Linked DNA regions of Homo sapiens: region 2 is linked to region 1. A link means that fine-mapping ties the variant in region 1 to the expression of a gene that starts in the linked region. Tissue or cell type: visceral fat. Region 1 holds a variant in brackets; the other region holds the start of a gene. All regions are shown on one strand. Distances are between the middles of the regions.

Region 1 (5,000 bases):
GCATACATGGCTATTAAAAAGTGAATTTGCCCAATGTTCAACTTCTAATACTTTAACAAATTAGTTTTTACCAGTTCTATCAATCACTTGCTAATGCCACTAGAATTCCTTTTGAACTGTAGGTAATATTAGGATAGTATTTTTAGACTACGAGGATAACACTAAAGTAATTAAATCTCGTATCACTAGTACGGGAGTAATTAGATTTAAAAAAATTTGAAGCAAGTTCACATCCATCAACAAATATTTACAATATGTTTACTCTGTGTAAAGGGTTATAAGTAAACCAATAAGCAAATATGTTTTAAATATCTTAAAGCACAATAGGCTGAATTCTATAATATTCCACATGTTAAGCTCCTAAATGCTCTCCTATTAATATTACTACATTTTAAAAATATCGTTTAGGAGACTATACCACTATCCTACACTAATACTTAGCTAAGCAGTTTTTTACCTGATATATTAAAGCTACTACCGAACCTGTACTATTTTTTGCTACAGTTAAATCTATAACTGGCATTTATTATAAAATACTTCTGTAAAGAAAGAAATTTATAAGCAACCCAAGCAAATGTATATAGAAAGATCTTACTTAAAAGAAATGAAATATTATTGATTTTCCATGTTCTCTGTGCTGTATTTAACTTAATTTTAAGAGACTTTTCACTAGAGATAAACTGAACTGTATACCTGAATGCTAATGTCAGCTATATTTCTAGAATAAAAATACAAAACTTTACACCACAGTTCAAGATGTTAATGGAAGAGAAGTTGAATTATATTAAGCATTATCTTTCATATGGCCTTTTGCAAATTGATTTGTAGTCATGAAATCCGACATCTAGCCCGTCTCTCCCAGAATCCAAAGATGTGCATAATTCACTAAATTTTATGTGAAACGGTCTTATGTAATCACACCTTTGGAAACATACTGTTTCATGTTATAGGATAAAATAAAAATGGAACCTCACATATTATTACAATATGTTTCAGAAGGCAGGTAATAAACCAAAAGAAACATACCCAGTAGTCTACTATTTCAAAGATAACATGAATGGATGGATGGATGACCGAGAGTAGGTAAATATTGAAGCAGACAGATGTCCATATTGGAGGAAAACAGTACTAAATATGACATGCTGCTGTCTATGACTGTGGCCACCTAAAAGGATCCAGGAGCAAGTGGCGAATCTTGCCTCAGAGGCTACACCCATCTGCATTCAAGTTGTTAAGGCCCCATATGTAGGCTTGAAATCAGATGCTTCTGCAGAGATTCAACTACTCCACTTACAGGGCTGCAAATCTAGTAGTGTTTTCAAACTTAGCTCTGCTATAAGGACACTGAAGTGTATGATGTTCTTTTAAAACTTAGTTTGTCCCCCAGTTCTTAGCTCACAAATTCCAGCCACTGAGCAGCCATAGTGCTGTTATTCTTCTTATCCAATTCAGCAGATATTTGCAACAATAAATGATTACCTGCCTTCCCTGTTCAGCAAAGCACTTTTCTAAAAGGAAAGCTAAACAGAATAATGATCTTCTCCAGAAGCAAAACAGAAGTGAGGATAAACTTCTAAGACCATAGACTTTCTTTCTGCATAGACAAACTAAAAGATACAGTCTTACATTTTCACCTCTTTTTTAAAAGGGGTTAAATTCATGGTTATTTCTCCCCTCAATGAAGCAAATGTGTTGATCAGGAAGGGGATAAGGGCAAAGAGGCTCAATTCACACACAGAGCTCCACTCTCTCTGATCCTTTCACCCTTCAAAAAAGAAAGCTTAAGAAGGAATGGCTTCAAGCTGAGTTCTTGTCTGCCACTACTGTGAAAAAGATAAAGCCTTTTCTGAAGAGATAGAGCTAGATGAAATAACCTCTAAAAATATCATTGTGGTGAATAAGGGCATAGAATGAAAAAAATTCTAAGTTTTCTTCTAACATTCCTTTTTTTAGTACACAATAACACCAATAATATAAAAAGGAGCTCTCAGTGATGGTATATAAATAGCTCTGGCTGGAGCAAAATAGCTTTGCCTCAGCTTCTCCAGAGCTGAACCAATAAACTATCAC[A/G]ATTAAATTTTCACAGTTCAAAAGCAAGTCCATTTAAACAAAAGAGGCCCTTATTTCTGCAACAAATCCAATAAAAAAACAATATTTATGCTACATATATGCAATTATGGTTTATGGAGGACATCCACATTTTTCAACAGAGAAACCTGCCTACTAAATGAAGTTGTTAAAAAAGCAAACTTTAACTTACAGTGACAGAGTTCTCAAATGGGCATCGTAATACTTTGAAAATTACTCCTAGAGATATTCTCTCTTATAAATTCTATACAGAGAATTTTAAATAAAACCAATTAGTACATTAGAGAGCTTTTGGGGTTTTACATACCTCCACTAGAGTGGGAGGGTCACAAGATCATCATCTTTATGGCTCAAATGCCTAGCACAGGGCCAGTGATCACTCCCTCAACAACGGATGAGTGACTGGAAGCAGTGACAAGAAAGTGGTAAGACGGAAAGCGCACAGACTTTAGCATCACACAGACCTGGGTTTCAATGGCAATTCTGGTACTTATAAGTGGTACTTGGGCGAGTACTTAACTCCTCTGGGCCTCAATTTTATCTGCAAAATGGGGATAATTCCTACCTCATACACTTGCTCTGGGTATTACAGGAAATAATAAGTACAATGAATCTAGCACAGTTCCTGGCATACAGCAGAGACATTCATAAAAATGTTAGCTCCCCACCCACCTATTTTTCCCCTAGCCTAAAAGAGTTCTCAGGATTAAAAAAAACTAAAGTTAGCTAGCAGGACTCCTACAGACACATGATAATACACTGTAGCTATAATCCTGTTCTTGTCCTGTTCCTGTTTATTCTACTCTACTCTATATATCTAGATAAAAGGAAAAGAACAAAGTTCTGAATGTTACAAAGAGAGTTACCTCCTGACATCTGAGATGAAGGCATCCAATTCATGAATACTACTCCAACATAAAATTTCTCCCATAAAGTGTTTACCCAGTGATAATAAAGAACAAAGTCCCAATGAAACTGAGCTGCCTGCTGGATTCATTTACTAGCTGAGCTACATATTCCTGCAGGTCATTTCCAAAGGAGATGGATTTTCACTCATGCTAAGCAAAATGTACACATGCATGGGCCTTTGGAATCAATCATCTACAAGTAGTCAAAAATCTTAAAGTCAAAATCCTAAATGTCACAAGACAGAACATCAAGACATAACAGAAATTCCAAAAAGATGACAAAATCCCTAAAATCAACAATTCCAAAATCTTAAGGCTAGAAAAGTGCTTCTGCTAGGCAGGAAGTACAATGCCTGTTATATACAACAGGTAATCTCCATTCCTTTTCACAAGTTTTTGACTATATCCATATAGTTGAATATTTAGAGAAATGTTTCTATAAGAACATAGAAATATACAGTAGATTATTCCCTTAAAAAAAAAAGGCTTGGTGCAGTAGCTTATGCCTGTATCCCAGCACTCTGGGAGGCTGAGGCAAGAGGATTGCTTGAGCTCAGGAGTTCGAGACCAAACTGGGCAACATGGCAAAACCCTGTCTCTACAAAAAGTAAAAAAAAATAAAAATTTAGACTGGCATGGCGGCATGCACCTGTGGACACCAGTTACTCAGGAGGCTGAGGTGGGAGGATCACCTGAACCCAGAGAGGTCAAGGCTGCAGTGAGCCATGATCATGACACTACACTCCAGCCTGGGTGACAGAATGAGACCCCATCTCAAAAAAAAAAAAAAAAAAAAAAAAAAAGTGCATAGAATTCACAATGGAAATCGGTATCAAAATATTATGTGCAACTGGACACAGAGGTACATGCCTATAGTCTTAGCTACTTGGGAGGCTGAGGTGGGAGGACTGCTTGAGCTCAGGAGTTCAAGCCCAGCCTGAGCAGCATAGCAAGACCCCATATCTTTAAAAATGTGTGTGTGTGTGTGTGTGTGTGTGTGTGTGTATAAAATTTGCTTTCTGACTAATTTTCCAGAAAGACACTTATTCTATATAAAATATGAGATGATTATACAACATTTGATCCAGGTGTTCTTAAATACCCTGTGTTCATACATTCAACAAACATATGATGAGCATCTACTATATATCAAGTAAGGGATGCTAAGAATAGAGGGATGGATGGCAAATTCCAAGGGGGCATTATTCTACCAAAGTACTCATAATTAAGGACCAAGTTTCATTTCAGACACATAATAGTAATTTTTTAGAAGAGTACACTCAAACTCTCAGTTTAATTTGCTAATTAAATAAGTTTAACTACAAAATTACTCAAGACTTACATTAGTTTATTGTAGTAAATATGGCATATTATTATTTTTATTTATGGTTTCGAAGTCAAGAACAAAAGCAAGAAATACTAAATAACATGCTTATTTGGCATTATAATGGCAGCATATAGAAATCTTAAAAGTGTCACCCCTCAGCAAATGCAAAAGAACTGAAATCATAACAGTCTCTCAGACCACAACACAACTAAATTATAACTCAAGGTTAAGAAACTCACTCAAAACCACACAACTGAAACTGAACAACCTGTTCCTGAATGACTCCTGGGTAAATAACGAAATTAAGGCAGAAATAAAGAAGTTCTTTGAAACTAATGAGAACAAAGAGATAACATACTGGAATCTCTGGGATACAGCTAAAGCAGTGTTAAAAGGGAAATTTATAGCACTAAATGCTCACATCAAAAAGCCAGAAAGATCCCAAATTGACATTCTAACATCAACTAAAAGAAGTAGACAACCAAGAGCAAACAAATCCCAAAGCTAGCAGAAGACAAGAAACAACCAAGATCACAGTGGAACTGAAGGAGACAGAGACACGAAAAACCGTTAAAAAAAAAAAAAAGTCAACGAATCCAGGAGTGGGTTTTTTTAAAAAATTAATAAAAAATAGGTAGATTGTTAGCTAGACTAATAAGAAAAGAGAGAAGAATCAA
Region 2 (7,506 bases), 29 kb after region 1:
TCCTGCCTCAGCCTCCCGTGTAGCTGGGACTACAGGCGCCCGCCACCACGCCCGGCTAATTTTTTTGTATTTTTAGTAGAGACGGGGTTTCACCATGTTAGCCAGGATGGTGTGGATCTCCTGACCTCGTGATCCGCCCGCCTTGGCCTCCCAAAGTGCTGAGATTACCGGCGTGAGCCACCGTGCCCGGCCAAATTATCTTTTTTCTTTACTTTTCCCCTAATTCCACACTGGGCTAAGTTCCAATGATGGTTCAAATATTGCCTTAATTTTAAAAGAACTATATGCTCCTAGAAAATCAGTGTGCAAATCTCATTTTAAATTAGACAATATTATACATTGTTTAAAGATACCTCTCAATACTCTTTAAAATAAAAAACCCTTTCGTAATTTGAGTAATTTCTAATTGACAGTCAAATATATCAGAAATTCGGTATAGGAGGATTATCGAAGAATACTAGTGCTGTACTTCCTCACCACTGAAATCTCATGTACAAAACATTTCTTACATATATTATCAACCATGTTATCAGCAAACTGTTAACTGAAATTTTCATCCAAGTTAGGCATTATCATCAGTTTTGACTGCAGTGGTTTTTACTGAAATACAAATTCTACGATGCCCAGGAAATTTTCATTATAATGTAAAAGCATGGAAGACAGGAGTTTCATTTAAAAGAGTTTACACTTCACAGAAAGGTTAGTGGACAGAGCAATGAGTGATCATATTAACTACCAATTAACTACCAATTAAATCGTTATCAGAATTGATGAAAAGCTTTCTGCAATAATGCAAAAGAAAAAGGTCACTTAATAATCTAATACACCTTTCCCTGTATCTATTGCAACAGAGGTATTTATAAAATGAGATTCAGTTTAAACACAGTTTAAAACAAAATTTAAAGTTGATAACTATAAATCATTCAAAAAAAAAAAACACTACAAATGTTAGAAAAGAAATATGGAAAGCTATAAACAACCTTAATGGATTTTGAACTCTTACAACCAGATATGTTTATTAGGGTAACCGTTCCTAAGAAAACGTATAGCCTGTGTTAGTCACCCAGAACCTGACAGGGTAACCCCCACTTAGTTTTTACTCTATTGTCTTTGAAAAGCACCTGCTGAGATAAAATTGTTTCCATCTCCCTGTTGCATTTGGCTTACATATCCATTAGAGCAGGGAAGAAGTGGTTTACAAACTGACATTTGATAATCTAATAAGATAAATACTGCTGCCATTATTTTGAACCAAAAATAAATAAACGATGTATCTCCTGTACTACTTAAAAAAAGATACCTGTAATGACGACGAGCAACCAGTGCGGATGCCACTCTCCCTTCCCTTTCTCCCACACCACAATTGCCTAAGAAATTGTTGCTGTCCATGATTGCAAGTTCATGTAAAAAGAGTTCAAGTGTACTTTCATCCCAGCCATTCTCTGGACACTTGCCCTTAAAAAAAAAAAAAAACTTATGATTATATTTAATAAAACTACCGTTCTCTAGAATACTACAGGAATACAGTTTTTCTTTTTAACGTGTATTTTGCCACGCTGCTTGTTTTCTAAAATTCAAGCATAAATTCACCACTGTATAGAGACCGCAAAGAGGCAAAACGTTTGTACATTTGATTACAATTATTTACAGATTTCGAGAAGTGATGATAAATGCATACAATGAGGTTTACTGAGATATTTAAATTTCCGTAAGTGAAACTAACTGAAAACCAATACAACACATCCCCAGTGAAGATGCTTCAAACCAGGGCGTTACGACTGGGGCGGTGGGACGTGGAGAAGGGCGGTAGTTGTCAAACTTCAGTGAAATTTTGGCCACGCGCTGTAGCTCACTCACGCCTGTAATCCGAGCACTTTGGAAGGCCAAGAATGGCCGATCACTTGAAGTCAGGAGTTTGAGATCAGCCTGGCCAACATGGTGAAACCCCATCTCTACTAAAAATACAAACATTAACCGGGTGTGGTGGCGGGCGCCTGTAGTCCCAGCTACTCGGGAGGCTGAGGCAGGCGAATGGCGTGAACCCGGGAGGCGGAGGCTGCAGTGAGCCGAGATCGTCACACTGCATTCCAGCCTGGGCGAAAGAGCGAGACTCTGTTTCAAAAAAACAAAACACAACAAAACTTTTAATGAAATTAAAATACATGAACGCTGGCAGGAGGGAGACCTGTGAAGTTCCGCGGAAAGCTCGTGGTTCGAGTTAGCATACAGTCTACAAACACCATTATGTGTTCTGAGTCGTTGAGGGTTGGTGAAAGATGGAGGTGCGAACTTTGCCCTTTCCGCGAATAAAAAAGTACACTGGGACTTTCCCTCACTTCCGCATCCCGAAGTTAGAAACAGCGGGACTCAAAACCCCGACCCCAACACCCCCTCCTAACAACACCATTTGGCTTTCACTGGCTTTGGCAAGGCTGAGAAGGCACAGACCGCAGTCGGTCAGCTAGGGCAAGCCAAGCTGAGACAGACTTGGGACTAGTCTCAAGCAGCGAAGAGCTGCCGGTGAGGCAGCACCAGCGGGGACGCCCGGCGGAGCCAGAGCCCCGGGGTCGCGGCGGCTGGGGAGGGGACCGACAGCTCGGTACCTTCTCCAGAAGCAGCCGTATGAGGTGCTCATGCGAGCGGCGGGCCTCACAGCCCTGCCGCACGTAAGCCGGCGACACCAGCCGCTCTCCCGCCGCGAAGCTCTCGCGGTTCATGACAGCGGTGGCGACAGTGGCGAATAAGCGGGAGCACTAGCTCCACACGCCAGACACACGACGGAACCAGAATGCAACTCGCCGCCTGGACGGTACGGCAGCGCCTTGGGACAAAAAACAAAACAAAACAAAACAAAACAAAAAAAACACTTCTCGTTCGTGCACATGCGCAGACCTTCTCAGATGGCGCTCCAGGAGGAAGTTGGCGTATTTGAGCATGCGCGAGGGAGTCCGCGCTTTTCGCTGACTTTTGGCAAAGGAAGGACTGAAATTAGCCCCGCCCCGCTGCGGCTGATTCGTCTAGTTAAACCCTGGTGTTCCTGACACAAACTTCAGGAAAGGATTTTGCACTTGTGCAGACCGGGCGAGCAGAGTAAGAAGCAGGTACGTGGGTTTTTCCAAGTTCTGTGTTTCAGTCCTGTTGGATGGTTGAGATCTGTGCAGGGTCTGTGCTTCCGCCTTATTCAAACTGTCAGATGCCAGAACCTTCGATCTTTACTTTGATACATTTCCACACTTATTACTGCCTCACAACCCCATAGGAAATAGCAGTGCCCCACTCATTTTCCCCTTGACACTACTGTTTAGCCATAGCACTTACTACTCACCACGTGACATGCCAGACGTTTGTTTATACACACACACACACACACCCATACCCATGAATGTAAACTCTCTAACCTAACGGCAGGACCTCGGTTTTTGCTGCGGTGCCCCCTTCCCCCGGGCACCTAAAACAGTGCCCAGAATAAAGTAGGGCCTAAAAAAAAAGTTGATATTGAATTAATGAATTAGTTTGACCATTCTGAAACTATCCCCAAGAACATTTTGTAAAATTGATTAAGGAGGGGAAAAAAATCCAACTAGGCTTACAGCTGCTGTTATTAAGCCAGCTTGCAGTGTGGCCGACTTTCTTGTAGCTGGTTGCTACTTACTACCCCAGGAGAATGTGGCCCTTGTCACAAGACTCTTCATTCTTTTTCTGCTCTGAAGATAAAATCTAAGACATTATGAGAAGATAAGCTTTCTGTTTGCATTGCTTCTTTAGGTCCCGCATACCAACAAAACTAAGGACGCCAACTTGTCTGGAAGGCCCAATAAAAAGCTGATTCATGGAGGAATGCAATTGTCACATCCTAATGATTTCATCTCCCTTACCCCAACGAATCGATAACCCCAAATTTTCCAGCCCCTCACCCTCCACAAATCCCCTTAAAAAACTTTGCCTAGAACCCCTTGATGAAATGGATTGAAGCTTGAGAACTCTTCCTGTTTCCTGGCTTGTAACTTGTGATTATTAAAACTTTCTCTGCTGCAAGCCTGCTGTCGGAATACTGGTCTGTTTCTGCACAGCCGGCATAGGAACCTGGCAGTGCTGTAACAGTTCAACAACTTAGAGGTTCACTGCTGGAGATCCCTGCCTCCAGTTTCCTTACAATCTTCATCTTATGTGAGCCTACAGTAATTCCTGACATTGCTTTCACCTGGTGGTTTGTCCATTTGCACTGAGTCACACCCACTTGCAAGAGCTGATTGTTAAATGTTCAGTAATTTTGTGAGCTAGTTTTCAAATACAGCCACTCAAAAATTATATTACAAGCAAAAGTAAAAATACTCAAAATTTGTCACTTCCTAATTATTTTACATTTTACTATTATCTATGCTCTTCAGGTTATTTACATGCATTTTATCTATATGGTGGAAATTCAATGTAATGTTATACTACTGCACATCTTCCAACTCCTCTTTTGATGATGTCACGTTGGCCATGGTGGGAGCATTTACACCATGGAAATCAGTAAACACCGCTAATCAGGCCCTTACACTCCAACCCACTCCCCTAGAAGTCAGTTGTTCAACATGTACCAGCTCATCACTGTTTCTACTGCATGTTCCCATGGCATCCAGCTATTAATATAAATCAGTCTATTTATGGTATTTGTTGAATTGCATTTCAATTGTTAATTTTCTGTCTCAACTAGACTGTGAACTCCTGGTTCACAAGGGCTATACCAATATCTGTGTTCAAAGCACAGCACTAAATACATAATAGCTGTTTGATAAATATTTGTTGAATGACATAGAGCATTTAACTACTTTAAACAGAAAGGTAAACCACAAAACAACAAGAATTTAGCATACTTTCTAAAATGAGTATTTTTCAAACTTTTGGAAAGTTGTGTTCCTATTCTCAAAATGCAACTATTTTTGCAACTTCTTCTTTGGAAAAGCCTTCAAAGCTGCTTTGTCAATCACATGCAAAATGTGCAAAAATCCCAAAATTAATGTCATTACTGAATGGACACGCCAGGTTTTTGAGCCAGCTTCTTCTCTTACCTTATTCACCACCTTACTTCAGAAAAATGTTTGTCTGTTTCCAAAAAGTTAGTCATTGTCAAGATATGCATTCATTAAAGGTATTCAAAAGATACCAGCTTTGGAAGCAATTTCAAGAGAAGTATTCTAAAATTACTTTCATCCATTCACTCACCCAACAAGTATTTATCCATATGCCCATTTTACAGATCAGGAAAGCAAAGCTCAAGAAGTTTGAGTAATGTATTTAAGGTTATACAATGAGTGACACTAGCAGAATTTAAACCTGTGTGTTCTGGACCTATTTTAAATGATGCTATCTATTAAAAATAGTATGTAATTATTATTTTAAAATAGTAGTTTGTAACTACTATTTTAAAATAGTATGTAATTACTATTTTTAATAATAGTATGTAATTACTATTTTTAATAGGGCAACATCAGAATAACCTCATGGTCTTTACAAGATGAAGCATCATTTAAAATAGGTCCAGAACACACAGGTTTAAATTCTGCTAGGGTCACTAGTTGTATAACCTTAAATACATTACTCAAACTTCCTGAGCTTTGCTTTATCTGTAAAATGGGGATATGGAAGAGGCAGTTATGATGATTAAATGAGAGGTAATTGCTCAATGACATCTTCCCCTAGATAGACTGACTATACAAATGGACAATGGCCAGATCATATGTGATAACAGAACTCTCACCCACAACCTCTCTAGCAACTAGACTTCCAAACCACCACCTCTGCAGCAATCAGCCAAGAATGGTTAAGACTTGGGCAATGACTGCCAGCTTCCCTCTTTTATTACTCGCTTCTAACTTAAGACCAACCAGAGAAAGCTAAATATCCTCCTTAAATTACATAAGATGCCCTGTTTCTAGTTAGCCAACCTCTAGCTTCTCCTTGCCAACACCTCCAATCGGCACACCTGAATTCTTCCCTGTACCTGAATCTTTCACTATAAAGCTTTCCCACTCCCCTGCCTGCCTTTGAGACTCTTGACAAATGTAAATGATGGTGACTGACTCCCTTCTCTAGCACGCTCTGAATTTCCAGTTTTCCTGGAGACTTCACTGAGACATGGTCTGTGCTGTCCATGGCGGTGGACCTCAGCCTTTGGCCAGTTGTGGTGCCCACAGGGGCTCCTCGTGCCTTGTTGCTTATGGCTTGTCAAGTCCATGCCAACATGGTAAGTCAGTGCTGGCTTGGAACTCCTCCCTGTTTGCCTTGAGTTCCTAAGCTATTCATTTGAAGTTTGGTACTCAGATTTTGTTACTGGTTCCTATTTGCATCCTTAGTGGAATCAGGCAATTCCTTTTCATCCTTTGTGCTGTCCTTTGTACTTCTGTTTTGTATTGTGCTATCTAAAAGTGTTATTTTCCATAAGAAGGAGAATCATAGGGTAGAACATGGCCATGGGCCCTACAACCCTGTTGTTTAAGCCAGTTTCACAGACCGATGAGTTTGCAGTTCTCACCAGACTACATCCGTTTGGACAAATTTTGTTGTGGGTCACCAATAAAACTGGATGAAGTTCTCCCTTCATCTTGATTTTTTGTTCTGAGGGCTTGCTTTTGATCCAAAGAAAGAGGTCATTCTGATATTCTGCCTGCCAGGGGGCACAGATTGTTCGGTCTGTGTTCAAAAGGGGCAAAAATCAGGCTGGGGACTGAGACAGGATAAGCACGAGCATAACTTTCAACACCGTAGCCAGCTCTAAGTCTAAATCCTCTCCACCAGGAAAAACTTCTGCTTCTTATACATACTCTCATTACAATCCTAATGCTTGTGCCTATCTCTCTAAGTGGCATAACTTCAGCAATGAGGAGTTGGGCCTTCAGTGGCCACTCTGGGAAACACTTGACTTGACAAAATTTTTTATTTGATGGGCAAGAAAAGAAAGGGAATTAAGATTTCTTAGGTTTGATGGGCAACAGTTTTTTAGTGGTACACAGAGGCCTCCAAAGGAAATTCTGATTCAAGAATTATTCCACTAAAAGATGCTTTGGCTAAAGCTAACAAGCAATTTGACATCTTAAGCAACAACAAACTAGACTCATTTCCTAGTAAATCTTCCCCTTTGCGTTGGCTCCCTATATCCAGATGTCCCTCTTATCCCTTAGCCTTCTGATAGCTCTCTTTCTTCCCTTCCATCAACTCCCCCCTTCTCTTCCTCTTGTCCAGGACTCCTGCATTTTCCCAACAACTCTCCTAAAACTCTAAAATGTCAATTGCTTCTAAAGATCCCTCTCCCCTCAAAAGCCAGGTATGCAGGCAACTGCAGAATTTAAACTTTGCACCCAAGATGAATTAAGAGCAATAATCAAGAATTTCTCTACTTCCAAACAAGACCAGCAACTATTTATAGAAGAATTTAGGATTCATTTGAATGCATATGATTCAGGGTTACCTAACCTAAATATATCAATGTATACATATATTGGCCAGATCCTCAGGTGTTAAATC

What was found. PIP is the estimated chance that this variant, and not a neighbour inherited with it, causes the effect.
Region 2: it holds the start of SEPSECS-DT, and the variant in region 1 is fine-mapped to the expression of SEPSECS-DT in visceral fat (GTEx, PIP above 0.99).

What each region holds. Positions count from the first base shown.
Region 1 is chr4:25,130,353-25,135,352 of GRCh38, forward strand. The region is part of intron 8 of SEPSECS (Sep (O-phosphoserine) tRNA:Sec (selenocysteine) tRNA synthase); the gene reads right to left. Among named protein-coding and RNA genes, the nearest start is that of SEPSECS, 28 kb to the right of the region's middle. RefSeq lists enhancers at 1,201-1,727, 1,728-2,254. The variant A/G (reference allele first, on the strand shown) is at 2,071.
Region 2 is chr4:25,157,653-25,165,158 of GRCh38, forward strand. It overlaps SEPSECS-DT (SEPSECS divergent transcript), which reads left to right and starts at 3,020. Exons shown (of 2, transcript NR_037934.1): 1 at 3,020-3,101. It overlaps SEPSECS (Sep (O-phosphoserine) tRNA:Sec (selenocysteine) tRNA synthase), which reads right to left and starts at 2,797. Exons shown (of 11, transcript NM_016955.4): 1 at 2,604-2,797; 2 at 1,301-1,455. The coding sequence starts at 2,717. RefSeq lists a silencer at 2,481-2,650 and an enhancer at 2,761-3,060.